Regions from separate parts of the Homo sapiens genome. Here region 2 is linked to region 1. Evidence: fine-mapped expression QTL. Tissue or cell type: whole blood. Region 1 holds a variant in brackets; the other region holds the start of a gene. All regions are shown on one strand. Distances are from middle to middle. Region 1 has its middle 20 kb from the start of KRT77. Region 2 holds the start of KRT77 (keratin 77).

The links. PIP is the estimated chance that this variant, and not a neighbour inherited with it, causes the effect.
Region 2: KRT77 starts here. The variant in region 1 is fine-mapped to the expression of KRT77 in whole blood (INTERVAL, PIP above 0.99).

Annotation. Positions count from the first base shown.
Region 1 is chr12:52,718,760-52,727,599 of GRCh38, reverse strand. It overlaps the pseudogene KRT126P. Among named protein-coding and RNA genes, the nearest start is that of KRT77, 20 kb to the right of the region's middle. The variant A/G (reference allele first, on the strand shown) is at 3,765.
Region 2 is chr12:52,700,202-52,709,041 of GRCh38, reverse strand. It overlaps KRT77 (keratin 77), which reads left to right and starts at 5,518. Exons shown (of 9, transcript NM_175078.3): 1 at 5,518-6,150. The coding sequence starts at 5,608. RefSeq lists an enhancer at 7,276-7,445.

The sequences.
Region 1 (8,840 bases):
TCTCTTACCCTTCCCCTAGCCTTTTATAAAAATGGGGACATTTTCTCCTTTAGTAAAATTGCTTACATTCTGGGAATTAGTCCATCAGAATTAAAGCAAACTGGAGCTTTAAAAAAATCCAGGTGCCCGGGCCATGCTCCCTGATTCTGATTCAGGAGACCAGAAGTAGGGCTTCAGGATCTGGATTTTTAAAAGCTGCCCAGTGGTCCTGATGTGTAGCTGCCCACAGAGCAAAGTCCCAAATCTGCAGCATAGCACAAAGAGACCAATGCAATCAGTTTCAACCTACACCTTCAGCTCCTTCCCCATCATCTCTCCTCCTCCATTATGACGCCTATACTGAACATGTGGGATGCCTTACCAATACTTCCCCCACCACATTAGATTTCCCTCTCTCTACCAGTGGTGTCTTTTTTGAATTGTCCACCCACTGGGCCCACTCCGACCCCTCCCTCAGTACGCTACTCAAAATTACCTCCTCTATGATGCCTTCAATAGCCTTTCTTCCTCTCACACCTTAGTACTTTGATCTACTGTCAATAACGCTGACTCCAATGTGCTCTAAGGTGTTATTTACATGCCTGGTACTTCCTTCAACAAAACTGTAGGCTCCCCCAGACCATGAACTGTATTTTGTGTGTCATTGTCTTCTACTGGGAAGCCTTCTGCTGACACAAGCAAGTGCTCCACGAATCATTGCTGAGTGATTGAATAAATGTTTGGAGAGATGACTAAATGGATACTGGTCAATGTTGCATCTCTTAGAGGGAATGAAGTTCTAGGGGAAACCCTTCTGGACACTCCTTCTTGGATTCTCTGAACAGAACGCAGGAGCACCCATTATGCCTGACTCTAGATCCCTGCTCCAATTTTCATGCTTCTTGGCAGAAACCAGAGCCAGTGGTTGGGTTGAGATGGCTTCTACTTTCTGACTGCATCAGTTTTAAACCTACTTCATGCTTAATGCTTTTGTCATTTTCATTTGGGGCTACAGGTTGTATGAAAGTATTTTGTCTGTGAGTCACAGAGGGTGTGTGTCTGTGTGTGGCATGTTTGCCCATTGGTCTGTCAGGGTAGATAAATGAAAGGACTTTAACAAGTTCAAGACACTCCACAAATGCCAGATACTATTAAGTGTCATGTACACGTGTGAGGCTATGGCTTGGCTTTTTTAGGAACCAAGAACTTTCTGAATTGTATAAGTTTGGCTGGGAGCTGGGTGGGTGTATGTGCCGGGTATGGGGCCTGCCCTCCCATGGCTTCTACACTGGTTGAGAAGTAAGGATATTTTTCTTTGACTTATAGACACCATAGGGACAATGAGTGTCCCAGGAGCTTGAGGCCAGGAGAGCTCAGGGGGCCAGGCTGGTCATATGAGGCATCGTGTTGGGGCTGGGACTTTGGCTGGTTCCTAAATGAGTTGGCTTAGGGTGGAAGGGAAATGGTTTTAGGTCTAGACTGTGGCCCTCTCCTGGCCCATCAGCTTGCATAATCACACCCTTGATCCTGCTGAGGAAGGAGCAAGCTGGGGCAGCACAAACCATCCCCTTTGCTGGGAAAACCATGCAAAGTGCCCTTCTAAGGACTATGCTTAGAGAAGCACGGAGTCCTGTTTGTGCCTTTTCTATCAATTCCACACCACTTTGCAAACATGATCAAATACAGGTCAATTGCTCAGAGTCAGGGCTTGTTCTGTAAGCTGAGAACTTACAGACACAGAAGGAAGGGACAGACACAGAACATCCTGCCAGTGCCTGCACAAGGAGCCTTTCCAGAGCTCTGAGTCGTATATGCCTCAGTCCGTAGCATGTGCTCCAGGCTGGGACAGAAACTGAACTGGAGGCTTGGCTCTGCCACTTATTGGCTGTGGGCCCCTGGAAAAGTTGTTTAACTCCTTAGCCTCAGTTTCCCTCATCTGTAAAAAAAGAGCTAGAGGGTTGCCATGAAGGTTGAAAAAGTCTATAAGTGTCAATTTAGAGCCTGCTACCTGGCTAGCATTCTACGGCCTGACTCCCTGCTGCCGCTGTGATCCCTCAGTTCCCAAGGCGCTCCTGCTTTCTAGTTTATAAGGCCCTTTTTGTACTTCACTCACCTGGCCCTTGATGGGCTCAGGAGTAGAGGCTCAACAGGCAGAGAAGAGGTTTATCAGCTCTACTTTACAATGGGCTAAAAGGAGGCCCAGAGGAGCCTGGAGACTGGAACTTGGGGCTCTTGCCTTTATCCAGGGTGCTTTCCATGGCATTGTTCTGCCCGCCTCCTGGGGTAGGTAGGTCTGCGCACATTGAAGAGGCTGCCTCACTCCCTGGGCCTTCTCCTTCTGGGCTGGGCCAAGTTTCGAGCTGCAGCTGCCTGGCCCAAGACCTTTTTTCCTAAGTTTCAGATGCCATGAGGCTGGCCCTCTTCAATGAGACTCAGCTCAGAGGTCACCTGGTATTGAAGAACAGTTTCTGGCCAGGCCCGGTGGTTCACACCTCTAATCCCAGCGCTTTGGGAGGCCAAGGCAGGTGGATAACCGAGGTCAGGAGTTTGAGACTAGCCTGGCCAATATGGCGAAATCCCATCTCTACAAAATTACAAAAATTAGCCAGGCATGGTGGTGGCTGCCTGTAGTCCCAGCTACTTGGGAGGCCTAGGCAAGAGAATCAATTGAACCCAGGAGGCAGAGGTTGTAGTGAGCGGAGATCACACCACTGCACTCTAGCCGGGGTGATAGAGTGAGACTCCATTTAAACAAAACAAAACAAAACCAACAATTTCTTATGGAACAGATTCCCCTTTGACTGCAGGGCACAGAGTGGGACAGTCTGCCCAGGGAACCAGAGCTGAACTCCTCCTGGCTCATGCCCAATCTGCCCCAGGGCCCCATCCATGTGCTCCCCTTGAAGCCTCCCACACACACAACTCTGTCCCAACTCTGCTCTCCCCACTTGCCCTCCCTGGCCCAGCATCATCTGCCAACTGCCATGCCATGTACTGTCAAGCTCTGGCCTCAGCCCTGGGTGCTGCATTTGAGGGCCCCATTTCCCTGAGAAGCTGGGACTGCCTCATGGCAGGAACAATGGCAGATGCGGTTGTTCCTCTGCCCTTGGACTCCACTGGTGAGGGCACTGCTGCCCCAGAGCAGAGGGGCCTCGGTCAGGTGCCAGCCTGGGAGGCATAGCCATGGCCACGGAGAGGAGGGAGGGCAGGGCTCAGTGTCTCTCCTGGGGCCTCTGTGCCCTCATCCCCAGGAAAGGCCCGTATGGTTTAATTCTAGGGTTGGCGACTCCCTGGCTAGCAGTGCACTCTAATTTTTTTGAAGAGGCAACAGAGGAGAATAGCTGGACTTTTCTAGTTTGCAGGTGTGGGGGATTGGTGGGATTTGCCACTGCTAATGAAGGGATTTGGGATGGGTCCTCATTAGAGCCCCAACTTCCACCCTAATCTCTTTGGGATTTGTTCTTGATGTTAAAATGCAAACTGACTTCTTTGCGTATTCAGACTGGGCCAGGTCATTGGCAGTGGCCAAGGGGTGGAAACCAGTGAATTGTTCTGCAGAGTTCCCCTTCAATAGCAAGGATTTACAAATGGCAAGTGGGGGACAGGAGGATGGTGGGACACCTTTTCTCATTTGCTCCTGGGGCCTCTCTTGACAAAAGCATAGGCCACACTTGGAAACCAAAACATGACTTGGATTTTGGAGTCAGGATCCGCCCCATATGTGAGCAAAGACAGCGGTTTTATGTTATGTTGCTGAGCCCCACCATCAGCACGGGAAGTGATCC[A/G]GAGGGCAATGGGCCCAGGAGTTTCCAAATTGTTTTTAAACAGCAGAGTCTTTCATTTCAGAGATCAGCATGGAGGTGTCAGGGTGGCAGTGGTGATGAGACCAGAACACTGCCCACTGCATCCCTTTCTCCCACTCATACCTCATTTGAACCCTGGGGCTTCAGTAGGTCCAACGTGAATCCTCTACTCAAGTCTGAAGCCCTCATTGTGCAGAGGAGGAAACTGAGGCCTGGCAAGGGGAAGACTCAGTGGCTGAGTTGAGTTGGGACCTGGGTCTCCTCTCAGTCTGTGCCCCTATTTGGATCCAGCTGCCATATCTTGGTTTCTTAGGTCAGCAAGGAGCTTTGAGCAAGAATCAGGGCCCTGGGGGATGGGGTAGGCACCAAGGTTTTGAAGGTGGTGAGGACGATGTCTACCTGTGGCACGAAGGGCTGCATGGGGAAGAGTGCCCTGGGCAGGGATTTGTGATGAGCGTGTCCATCCTTGTGGGCATGCCTGTGGTTCTGTGATGTCTGTTTGTGTGTGTGTGTGTGTGTGTGTGTGTGTGTGTTGGTGTGAATTTATGGTGTGTTTTGCTTCTCTCTCTCTCCACCGAGTTCATTCTCTTCCACTTTACTTGAGGGTCTTTCGTGACTTGATGGAGAGGAATAGGGGCTTCCCTGAGGTTTGGCAGGTCACTGGTTTGAACTGGCCCTCCCTCCAGTGAGCTGGCAAGGGAAGAAGGAGGTGCTGAGTGGCTAGGAAGTCAGGTCTGAGCAAAGGGGAGAAGGTGAGATCAATGAGAGAAGGGTTCTTGGATGAGCACGGATCAGAGGGAATTGGAGGTTAGATTAGAAGAGGAAAAGGCAAAGGTCATTTTAAAAGGGGCTGGCCTTTGCAGAGGCTCATTTCCAGCCTTGGTTTGTGCTGTCAGGATTGGTGTCATCAAAGGTAGTCTTTGCTGCCAAAGGTAAGTAGAGGTAAATGTTACAAAAGTGAGTAACATTTCATGTCACACAGAACTTCTTCCAAATATTATGCCCCTAACAGACTTAAGAAGAAGCCCTTGTTATTCTGAAATTTTACTGGTGAGGATCTGAGCTTCCTAGGTGGTGGGGGTGGTGTCTCACGTGAACTGAAGGAAGAGGGTCTTGGGAATCCTGGATTCATTTTTGTTGTACAAGTTTGGAAGAGGAAAAGCTGATGGTTTTTCTGGCCTGGCCCAAGTGGTCCATTCTCTCTACCCTGCCCAGGCTGGCCTCAGCCCCTCTCTCTGCTCACCCTCTCCTAGGGCACTTGGCAGTGACCTTGACTTCTTCTCCAGCCATGCTCATTCCTGTCCTTGTCAGACTGATTCCTCTCTCCTCCCCTGCAGCTCTCCCTCCAAGGCCCCTTAGAACCCAGTTCTAGGTGTCCCTGTGGCTGAGAACTTGCTCTTTGTGCATTCATATGTGCACCTCCTCCCTGAAGGATGAGGTCCTAGAGGCAGCTGCTGTGCATTCTTGAACTTCTGTTGCAACTTCCTTCTCCTTGTCAGCCACAACGTCACCTTCACAGCCCTCCCCCGTCCTCTCCTTTCTTCCTTGGAGTCCTTGCCTGGGGTCCTGCCCCCACTGGGGCTGTGCACCCATCCTGGGAACCTCCTGAGGCTGGCTGGTCTGGCTGAGTGGCTGAGGGGCAGAGAAGTGCTGACCTGTCACTCTCAGCATGGGGTCATAGATCTCTTGGGGATTAAGGGTTGTGTCCAGCCCTACAGGATTGTTCCTCTCCCAATTTAAGGTTATTTCAGGGAAGTAACCCTGGGAAAACAAAGTAATTTGGAAATTTGGAGGGATTATCAAGGTGTGTTGCATATTTTGAACTCGACCTCTTGCTGCCAGGCAAACCAAAGCTGCTAATACCTCAGTTAGGTGGCTGGCACCATCAGCCAGCCAAGCTCCCAGGCTCTACATAAGGGCCATCCCCATCCCAGAACTTCAGAAGGCTTCTGAGTTTCCTCCAGCCTTCTGAGCCCACCCTTCCTTTGGAAGACCTTGCTGTCTGCCATGAGTCGCCAGATAAGCTACAGCCAGCAGCCCTGCAGGTCTTCTGGTGGGGCCTACTGCCAGACCTTCAGCAGCCACTTAGCAGTGGTGTCAGGCCACAGCTGGATCAGCTCCATCATGTCCTCCTTTGCCTCCAGCTCAGGAAGGGCTGGTGGTGGGTGGGTCTGCTGCCTGTGCCATGATGGGGGGAGGTTTCTGCAGCCAGAGTCTCCATGGCCTTGGGGGGAAGAAGACGATCCCTATCAGTGTGGCTGGAGGTGGCACCTGGGCTAGTGGGTTCAGCGGGGCTGGTGGGTTCGGGGGGCCTGGTGGGGGATGTTTTGGAGGCAGTGGTTTTGGAGGTGGTGGAAGAGGGATGGGTGGAAGCTTTGGTGGAAGAGCTGGGGGCTTTGGCGGAGGAATTGGAGGCTTCAGAGGAGGAGCCAGGGGTTTCTGCAGAGGAGCTGGTGGCTTTGGTGGTTCTGGAAGCTTTGGTGGTCCTGGTGGCTTTGGTGGCCTCCGTGACCTCAGTGATCTGGGTGGCTTCCTGGGTGGAATCCAGGAAGTGACTGTCAACCAGAGCCTTCTTCAGCCCCTCCAGGAGACTGACCTTAAGTTTGGGCAAGTAAAGGCCCAGAAGCGGGAGCAGATCAAGACCCTCAACAACGTTTGCCTCCTTCATCGACAGGTGAGCCCATCTCAAGCCAGCTAGACAGTGAGGAAATCTGGCTCAGTTGTGTTGGTCTTTTTTTTCCCTCTTCTCCTTATGAGTCTGAGGAAGGAGTTGTGGGTTCACCCAATATGTCAAGCCCTCTGTGGTATCTCAGCAGTAGTGGGCCTGCTTACAGCAGCAACAGGTGAGGAAAACGCTGTAGCCCCTCCCTGGATGGAGGTGCCATCCCTCTGTGTGCCCCGTCCCTCGTCTCCTCAGAGGGGCTGCTGAGGCTGCTGCTCTGGGGACTGCTGGCTGCCATCATTGATGTCTCCTAACCATTGCCTTCTGAAACCCAAACGCAGAACTCCCCCTCCATCTCAGAGGATTTGCAAGCTGCTCGTCTTTGAAAGAGAGGATGACTCTGCCCAAGCTGAATTTGTATTTGAGGGATGAGTCAACCTGCCATCAGCTTTGTGACGTGAGATGAGGGTTAAGGGGCACCTCCTCCTAGGTGCTTCTCATAGGATGATTTTAGTGTGAGGAACTGCAAATGTTGACGGCATGTGAGGCTTGTTTGCACGTATACGTGCAAGGGCCTGGCTGAATGAATGGTTTATGGGGGTGTCTGCGTTCTGGACATTCCATGCAAGGGAAACCATGGCAATGACAGTGGTGACTGTGTGGTGTCTGGGCTTGGTTAGCTGCTGAGAGTGTCATCAGTACTCTTGGGGCACAATGTGTGGAGATCTCTTTGTGACCCTGGGGTAATAGTAGGCCTCACAGAAAGGGCTTGTAGTGATTCTTTGCGGGGTCCCATTTTCATATGTGTCCTGGGCAAAGATGAAGAAGTTAGTCTTAACATTGGAACATCACACCTTTTTAGAGGTGAAGCTCTTGAAAGTTAAGTGACCTTCTAGAGGTACCTAGCTGGTTCCTGGCAGACATCTGGGTGTCTGGATGAATTTATTTACAGAGGCCGGGTGCGTTAGTTCACGCCCGTAATCCTAGCACTCTGGGAGTCTGAGGCAGGTGGACTACTTGAGTCCAGGAGTTTGAGACCAGCCTGGGCAACATAGTGAGACCCTGTCTCTACAAAAAATACAAAAATTAGCCAGGCATGGTGGTGCACACCTGTAGTCTTAGCTACTTGGGGGGCTGAGGAGGGAGAATCGCCTGAGCCCAAGAGGCAGAGGTTGCAGTGAGCCAAGATCACGCCACTGCACTCCAGCCTGGGCAACAGAGTGAGAACCTGTCTCAAAAAAAATTTGTTTACAGAAAAACAGAAAGTGATGCTGAAAATGCAGCTGCGCCACAGCAAGTGGGTTTGGCTGCCCAAGGTCTCAGCAGTAGCCCTTATCATCCTCAAAGGGGCCTTCTGAGATCTTGGAATCCTGAGTGTCTAGTATAAGGCCTGACACTTGCTTGGTGCTCTGCAAATGTTTGTTGAATGACCAGTTGATTGATAGTTACTCCCCTGCTTATATGGCTAGCCTTGAATTTTGTGCAGAAATGTCTCATAGCAAATAAAAGTTTGAGACATCTTTAGCCAGTGGTTAAGTTTAAATGCAGGGCTCAGTTGCATCTAGGATCCTTCTTGGGAAAAGGTCAGCTTGAGAGACATTTCTCTGTGGTTTTCTCTAATTCCCGCCTGAGTGCAGTGTACCCAGGATTGTAAACATCTTTCTGGAGACTGCATCTGCTGTAGAATACTCACTAAGTACCTATGGAGAGCCCATGGTGCTACTGTACTTGCTGTACACAGAGTTGGCACCAGAAAATTCCCCTGAAAGCTCTTGGCAGCTCAGCCATCTCCCTCTGGTCCCATAAATAGTTGAAAAAAATCAAAATTTCTCCAGAAAGCCTTCTAGGATCAATCAGAATAGTATAAGGAAGGGGTATCTACTTCACTGTCCAATTATCATCATCATCATTATTAAGTGGTGCCTGGCACATATTAAGTGCTAGTAAATGTCTGTAGAATGAACTGGGTCTTACCTGAACCCAGAAGGCCATACATTGGAAAGATGCAGGCCTTGGGCTAAACTGGTGGGACAAGAAGCCCTGAATCCATGTGATTCATGGGATGTGCTCTGGGTCCATGGGGATGACTGAGAGAAGGCAGACCACAGGTGACCTTTTTCTCACAGGTATGAAGATGAGGTCAGCAAGTGCACAGCTGCAGAGAATGACTTTGTGGTCCTGAAGAAGGTGAGGGGCCTCTTCCCAGCTTCCCACCCCAAAGCCCTGCTAACCTGAGTGGTTTGAGAGTGGAGGGGAGGCAGAAGCTTAGTGCTGTTGATCTGAGGACTTCTTGTAGGCCCTGCAAGTGAGGGCCAGGAAGAGGGAGGAGGCCAGACAGGGTTCAGGCCCCCGCAGCTCCCTGCCCACACCTGTTGAAGGGTGTGAAGGTCCCAGCA
Region 2 (8,840 bases), 19 kb after region 1:
GCAGCCTTCAACTAACTTCCCACTTTCCTTTTAAGGTGGCAGGTGGGGAGAGGAGGAAGCGGGCACATCTCTCTCCAACGACCCCATCTCTTCTGCAATACATGTAGGTTCTGAAGTGGGAATGCGCGGGTTCAAATCTCCATTCCACTATTTTCATTAGTGTATTCTTTGACAAGATTCTCTTTCCAAGTCTCACTTTCTCCATTTGCAAAATGAACATAGTAAGAATATCTTCCTTATGATGTTGGTATTTAGATTTCACGAGACCTTCCATGTTATAGACAGCACAGTGCATGGTCCATGGAAATCACCTGGTGAAGTTCACTATTATGATAATGATTGTTACTCCTATCTGTGTCCTTAGACTGAATGGAATCTAAAGAGGCTGTTTCATTTGTCCTGTTTCCTCCAGGTCAGTGGTCTCCAAACTTGCTGCACATTAAAACCACCTTTTAAAAATTCTAAAGTCCAGACCATAGCCCCAGACCAATTAAACTCTACTCCTTAGGTGTGGGCCCAGGCACCAGCGATTTTGAAGCTTTCTAGGTGATTCCAGTGTGAGCCAGTTTAGAAACCGCTGCTCTCTGCAGTCTAACCAGCTGAGGAGTTTCTTTTAGGGGTAGTGATTCGTCCTAGGAACATTATTTACCCACTAATATTGATCTGAGTTGAAACACTTCCTTTGAGACAAGCAAAATCTCTCGTGCTTCACTTTAAGTCATTTTTTTTTCTTCTGAGGAAGTAGAGCATAGCTATCACCCTCCACCAAAAGCTCAGTTAGTGGGTGTGTCCCTCCTCCCCTCCCAAGCCCTTCAAGGGATGACAACAGCCCAGCAGGGGCCATCAGCTGACGGGAGGTAGATGACAATGTTGGCATTGAATGCTGAAAGCTGATCATAGACAGAGATCAAAGAAGCTTCCTAAACTCTGCTGTCCGGGACTTCCTTTTTTATGTTATCACAATGGAATATTTTCACATTCAGCATGACAGTATATAGAAACCTGGGCGAGTGCTGAACAAATTCCACTCAAAGACATTGCTGGAGCCCTCTGTGACCGAAGCCAAACTCAGGCCTCAGGGTTTCCCAGTTGCTCCCTCGAGGCAAGGGGGCCTCTTCATGGCTCCCCCATCCCACCCCCTCACATGCCCGTTCCTTTCTCTAGGCCTTGGCACGAGCAGTTTCTCTGGTCCTTCCCAGTCCCAGTCCCTACAACAGAGCACCCTCTCACTGGCCTACAGTACATCCTTCGAGGTTAGCTTGAGCTTGCCTTTGCTTCTGTGAAGCCTTTTCCAGCTGCCTGTCTTTCTAAAAACTCTCATCGCATTCATAGGTCTCAATGCTGTAGCCACAGCCACACAATAACACCTCTCGTAAGAGCAAGCCTTTTAAAATATTTGTTGTCTTCAAGTGCTCTATTTAAGGGTCAGATGAATAGCGTTCAGGGAACTCAGTGATTAGTTCAATCATAAAACTGGTACATGGGGGGAGCTGGGCTTTAACTCCAGGGGCACTTAATTGTGGGGCCCAAGCTCTTGGTTCTCTAAGCTGTCCACGTCTCTTTACTTTAGCTCAGTCATGAAGGCCTTTGTTATTGGCCCACTCTGCCCAGCAGTTGCAGGAAGAAAGGGGCTCCTGGTCCATGAAGTCTTGTCCCAACAGCAAGGAGCTTCCTGTTTGTTTAGGTGGCAGTAGAGACAGATGCGAAGGGGTTAATTATGTGTATTCTTCATGAGGAGGAGGTGGGGTTGAAAGTGAGTGGTGCAGCCGGAGAGAGAGGTGGGTTCACAGGGAGGGGTTGGGGAACAGAACCTCACTTGTGTGACTCCTTGGGGCTTGCAAAGTGCTCTTCCATATTTGTTCATAGCCATTCATTACTATCACTCTACAAAGCTGTTATTTTATATATATATATATTTTGAGACAGAGTCTCCCTCTGTTGCCCAGGCTGGAGCACAGTGGCGCCATCTCGGCTCACTGCAACCCCTACCTCCCAGGTTCAAGCGATTCTCCTGCCTCAGCCTCCGAAGTAGCTGGGATTATATATTTTTGTGTTTTTAGTAGAGACGAGGTTTCACTATGTTGGCCAGGCTGGTCTCAAAACTCCTGACCTCAGGTGAGCCACCCACCTCTGCCTCCAAAAGTGCTGGGATTACAGGTGTGAGCCACTGTGCCCGCCTGGTTACTATTTTCTTTATTTTAGAGGTCAGGAAACTGAGGTTCAAGGAGTCAAGTGTCCCAGCCATGGGGCTAGGAGGGGGCGGAGCCAGGAGTCAGAGCTGGGTTTCAAGATGCCCAACTCAAGGATCTGTTCGCCACACCACTGCTGTTTCCTGTCTGGTACTTACTGTCCCTTCTCCTATCAGCCCCCATTTTCTCAGCCAGACCCCTACTTCTTCCCCCTGCTCTGTTCTTTCTGCCTCTCCTCTGATATCTGACTCAGAATCCTGGTCTTCAGGCAGCTTTCTCACATGAACCCACCCCTTTCCCTAGCTTCACCTCTCTTTCCTTCCTCTGCTTCTACTGGTTCTCTCCTTGTCACTCTGTGCTGGAGGCTAGGCCCTGGCTTCCCTCTCTTACCTTAGGGTTAGGAGTATGGCTGTGTGGACCATAGGTGCCTAGGACTAGGGTGACCAACTGTTCTGATTTGCCCAGGTATATCTTGGTTTAAGTACTGAAAATCCTAGGCAAAGCAGGACAGCTGTCATCCCACCAGGATCTGTGAGCAGCTATTTCTGCTTGTTTAGTGATTCCAGTGCTCTGCTTTTTTCTCCCCACATGACTTATATATAGCTTTGAATCCTTGAGAAATAGACACTTTGGTTCCTTAAGTGTCTGAGAGGCTCTAGGTTCCTTAAGTGTCTGAGGCTCTAGACACAACCAGCAAGCAGCAGAGCTTCTGCCTATAAATTTCAGGCTCATTGTCTCCTCTATCACACAGTGTCTCCTGGATGACCCACTGAACAGATACCATGTACGGAATGCAGAGGTTCATGAGAAGAGGGTGTGGAAGCTTGGAATTGCCCTTGGAGCATTTCCCTGTACCAGGATGACTTTTCACTGCGGCGCCCCCACAGTGCTCTTGTTTCTACCACCTGTTCTTCCCCACCTCTATTGGGATTTCTGCCACAACTTTCTTTTTTTTTTTGAGGTGGAGTTTCACTCTTGTTGCCCAGGCTAGAGTGCAATGGTGCAATCTCGGCTCACCACAACCTCTGCCTCTTGGGTTCAAGTGATTCTACTGCCTCAGCCTCCCAAGTGGCTGGGATTACAGATGTGCCACCATGCCCGGCTAATTTTTTGTATTTTTAGTAGAGATGGCATTCTCCATGTTGGTCAGGCTGGTCTCGAACTCCTAACCTCAGGTGATCCGCCTGCCTTGGCTTCCAAAAGTGCTGGGATTAAAGGCGTGAGCAAAAAATATTTATTGCAATGAACATAAAGAAAAAGGACATTTAAAACACCAGGAAAATTCAGCCGGGCACAGTAGCTCACGCCTGTAATCCCAGCACTTTGGGAGGCTGAGGCAGGTGGATCACCTGAGGTCAGGAGTTCTAGACCAGGCTGGCCAATATGGTGAAACCCTGTCTTTATTAAAAATACAAAAAATTAGCCAGGCGTGGTGGTAGGCACCTGCAATCCCAGTTACTCAGGAGGCTGAGACAGGAGAATCGCTTGAACCCAGGAGGCAGAGGTTGCAGCGAGCCAAGATTGTGCCACTGCACTCCAGCCAGGGCAACAGTGCAAGACTCTGTCTCAAAAAAATAAGCAAACAAACAAAAGAACCTAGGAAAACTCCTCCCACAGTCTCTAAATAAATCAACTCACTTTCTAGTTACTCACAAAGTCTGTCTTATCTGCATTTTTTTTTTTTTTTTTGAGAGAGGGTCTCATTCTCTTGCCCAGGCTGGAGTGCAGTGGCACGATAAGGGCTCACTGCAGCCTTGACCTCCCAGGCTCAAGTGATCCTCCTACCTCAGCCCCCCTGACCCGTGGGAGCTGGGACTACAGGAGTGTGCTACCACACCTGGTTAATTTTTTGTATTTTCAGTAGAGATGGGGTTTCGCCATATTGGCCAGGCTGGTTTTGAACTCCTGGGCTCAAGTGATCTGCTTGCCTTGGCCTCCCACAGTGCTGGGATTACAGGAGTGAGCTATTGCACCCGGCCTTCTGCATTCTTAATTCTTATGAGTTCACAGCGCAGACTCCATCATGTAGTCTGCCCTTTCCCTTTAATATGGTACATAGTATCACAAGTGGTTGCCGGTTCTGCTGCAGAGTCTCCAACAAGATGATTTAAAATAATTGTATCCAATTGGGCAAGCCATCGCTTAGCCATTTTTCTAAGGCTGGAGAGTTTTTCCCCAAGTTAAAAAAATTATTATTACATTTTGGATGAAAGCCACAGCTATTTGAGTCCAGAGGGAAAACGCACATTTTTTTGTTGGCGGACACTGATGCTCACTGAATGAGCTTTTCCCCAGGATGCTGTCTGGGACGTGCTTCTCAGAGGGTGAGCACAGATTAGTGCTGGTCTACCGTGCTTTGCTATTGCCTTGTGGTAAGCACAGAATTTGAGAGTAACCATTTAGAAAATTATTATTATTGTTGCTATTTTTAGCAGTTAAACAATGTTTTGTTTGCTGAATCTAAAAATAAAAAAAATTTGGGCTTGCATTTTGTATATCTTTTTTAAAAAATTATCTTTAGGAGGTAATTCCTTTAATTCTATTTTACAAAAGTATTGTCTATAAAGAACCGGAAATGATAAAACAGAAAGAGAGATAGTTAGGGATGGTTTGTCTTCTGGTCTAGAAGACAATATTAGGTACTGGTAGATGCTCAACAAATCTATAACCACAGACTTTTGGTGCTGAAGTACCTTGTGTGGTTTTGTGTTTGAGAAGTCTGAGGCTTATCAAGCAGCACACAATGTGAATGACCTTGGGCAGAATCTGTGGGCCTCCACTTGTACTCAGTGACCACAATATTGCACTTCCATGTGATAAAATTTTGGGTGCTCATGGTGATGATAACTGCAGGGAGCAGAAGCAGTGTGTGGGGAGATTGGAACAAAACTTTTGCCCCACCAGGACGATGCTGTGACAGAAAGTGTTTCCACCTCTGTCCCAGCTATGGTCCTGAGGTCTCTAAACACCATCTAACTTTGCCCCAGATCTCCCAGGCACATCCCAGAAACAAACAACTCGATGGTGGAGTTTCTTAGGAAGAGATGAACTGATGATTTGGGGAGAATCTGTATAGAAGTTTCCAGCAATGAGATCCTGAGAGATTCTTGCATTCTGATCTCTAAATGGCAAGAGATGAATGATAAATGATCGAGTTGGGGAAGTTTGTCTGCAATCTGATTTCTGCAACTCACAGGTGTGAGGTTTTAAACAGATGTTGCTGGCAGGCAAACTAAACATTAATACTCCCCTTTCAGGATTGTAAAGGTGCCCAGCCCAGTAATGTGTGTGTGTGTGTATATATATAGAGCCGGAGCCAGATCTTTTCAAAGGAGTCAGAGCTCCTTTCCTCTCTGGTCTCTGCCTCCTTCCTGCCAGGCTCTTTCTCTTGCCTGCTTCTCTGGATGCTCCAGCAAACATGAGCCACCAATTTAGTTCTCAGTCCGCGTTTAGTTCAATGAGCAGGCGGGTTTATAGTACCAGCTCTTCTGCAGGCTCTGGTGGTGGGAGTCCGGCAGTGGGTTCTGTGTGTTATGCTCGAGGGAGGTGTGGTGGTGGTGGATATGGGATCCATGGAAGGGGGTTTGGCTCTAGGAGCCTCTACAATCTGGGTGGCAGTAGAAGCATCTCCATTAATCTAATGGGGAGGAGCACCAGTGGTTTCTGCCAGGGTGGGGGAGTAGGGGGATTTGGAGGGGGCAGAGGCTTTGGGGTTGGCAGCACCGGGGCTGGTGGCTTTGGAGGAGGTGGTTTTGGGGGTGCTGGATTTGGGACTAGCAATTTTGGGCTTGGGGGCTTTGGTCCTTATTGTCCTCCTGGGGGCATCCAAGAGGTGACCATTAACCAGAGCCTCCTAGAGCCACTTCACCTGGAGGTGGACCCTGAAATTCAGAGGATCAAGACCCAGGAGCGGGAGCAGATTATGGTTCTCAACAACAAGTTTGCCTCCTTCATTGACAAGGTGAGCACCTCAGGGGCAGGGAGGGTCATTGGTCACTGACCAAATGACTGAGAGAGATTACACCTTACCACCTCTCACCACATCGTGCTGTTTCAGCTTGACCTGGGACCTTAGAAAATCATTTACCCATTTGGGCTTCAATTTGTCTTCTTGCAGGGATTTAATTCCATCTTTTCCTTTTGGCAGGAAAGGAGATAAGCAGTGTTAAAATACTCAACAGATACATGGTGTAGTACCCTCATTCTCATTCATAATTATTCACTTTCCATCCACCCATCCACCCATGCACCCATCTATCCATCCCCATCCACACAATCCATTTATACACACACACACAAACACACACACACACACACACACACACATCCATCCATTCACTTATTCATCAATCCACCCAACTATCCACCCTTCCGTCCATCCATCCATCCACCCACCCATCCACACAATCCATTTATACACACACACACACACATGCACACACACACACGTGTTCATCTGTTCATTCACTCATCCATCAATCCATTCAACTATCCACTCATGCATCCATCCACCCATCTAGCCCACAAATATTTTCTAAGAATCTATGATAGGCCAGACATCGTGCCAGGTGCTACAGGTGACTAGGACACAGGTCCTGCCATCAAGGAGCCCACGTCTAAAGGGGAGAGAATTACTACAGTGTATGTGAAGTGTGTCAATAGGGGTAGTACTCTCTGGGCCATGGTAGCTCAAAGGAGGGTGTCATGAGCTCTGCTTGCTGAGTCTGGAAGGCGGATGAAAAGTTAAATGGGTTCTAATTTTAGTATATGTGCTGCCGAAGTGAGCACGAGTTAAATGGGTTCTCAGGGCAGAGGGGATTTTCAGGCAGAAGGACCAGGAGGCATGAAAGCGTGACGCGTTTAGGGAATTTCAAACAGTTACAATTCCTGGAGAAAATGGGATACCAAGGGGTGGAGGAGAGAAGTGGAGATGAAGCCACAGAGCCAGGGCAGGAGAAGCAGGCAGGGCATGGTGAATGCCCTGGTGGTGGGTATCTCTTGGGGCTAAAGTCAATAGCATGCAATGTAGGGTTCTGTCTGAGTTTCCCCTTTTGGCTCATCAAGGGCCAAGGATGGGCCAGATGGAGACACAGAAGCCCCTGTCCCTAGTTCCCTGTTGAAACTTCAGATTAGGTCCAAAGCAGCAGCAGAGGCTGGAGAACTCGCCATGGTGAAGACCTCCCTCCAGCATCTCCTTTTGTCTGGAGGTCGAGGCACAGCGGCCACTAGCACCTCCCCAGGAGGAACTTTGCCTTCAGGGATGCAGTGGGAAGCCCCACAGAGCACCAAGGCCGCTTGCACACTCAGTGACTTTCCCTCAGTCCCCACGGGAGTTCAGTGCTGAGGCCAGAGCTTGACCTGTGGCCTGACTGCAGGGTAGCTGTGGCTAGAGGCCATACTGGGTGGCAGGGCAGGCCTCTGATATCTGAGCAGATGCTGGGGATGGGACAGTGTGTGAGCGGGCGGAGGAGGGTGAGAGTGCTGAGGCCCAGAGGCTGCCGAAGAGGAGCGCAACACAGCAGCGTGCTCCCGTGGCTTCCGATCATGCTGCGTGGGAAATTTGGCTGAGTATCACCACGCTTCAGGCAAAGGCAGGGGTTAGAGGGTTTCACTGGAGCAAGGAGTCACTACTCGGAGGTCACGGCTGGGCCAAGAGAGGAGCAGGGAGGAGAAAGGGCTGGGAAATGACCACAGGCCGCTGGCAACTGACCTCCTGAGGCTCATCTGATTATGGCCCCTGCCATGAACAGGGTCTGTCCAGTTGCATGGCATAGGGCAGTGGGCAGAGGCTAGGGTGCAAGAGACCTGGGCCTCCTGTCCTTCGAAGGGCATGGCCTATGATGACTATGAGGAGAGGCTTCTCAGCCAGGTGGGCTGTGGCCTGGCTGGAAGGAAGAAGGCTTCTATGACAGGTGACTTCTGACTCTGCTTTCCAAACTGGTCTTCCTGCTTTCACCCTTGACCCTGTATAGCCTATACTTGACACCACAGCAGAGCCATCCTTTAAAAGCATGTCACGACACTCCTCCATTTGAATCCTCCAGTGGCTTCTTGTCTCGACTGAAAGAAAAGCCCAAGTCCTACAAGGCCCTATATTACTTGCCCTTCAACCCGCAGCTGCTGCTAAGCCCACACTTGCATTTGTGGAATCAGGCCACGTTGCCCTCACTGGGTGGAACAGCTTTCGGGATACAATGGCTAGTAAGCAGAGTGAGGCCTGGAAAACAGCCCCCAGGCTTCCAACTCATTGTTGTCTGCAGCCTCCTGTGCCCCTCTGCCTCCTCTCCTGCTCTCTTCTTGCTCACCAGCATCCAAGGCTCAGTTCTGTCTCAAGGTCTTTGCACCTACCATTCCCTCTGCATGGAACTCTTCCCCCGAGAGAGAGGCCCACCTTCCTCCCTCACCTTCTGTGGGTCTTTGCTCAGATGCCACAGTTTCAGTGGGGCCTTCCCTGACCACCACTTCAGTGTTCCTATGCCCCGGCCCTGTGTGACTCCATAGTCCCTGCAGCCATCTGAGGCACTGTATTTTTTACATGATTATTTCTTTATAGTAATCTCTCTAAATAGAATGCAAACTCCTGGAAAGCAGGGATTTTGCCTGTTTTTTTTATTACCAAATCCCTAGCACCCAGAATAGTGCCTGACATAT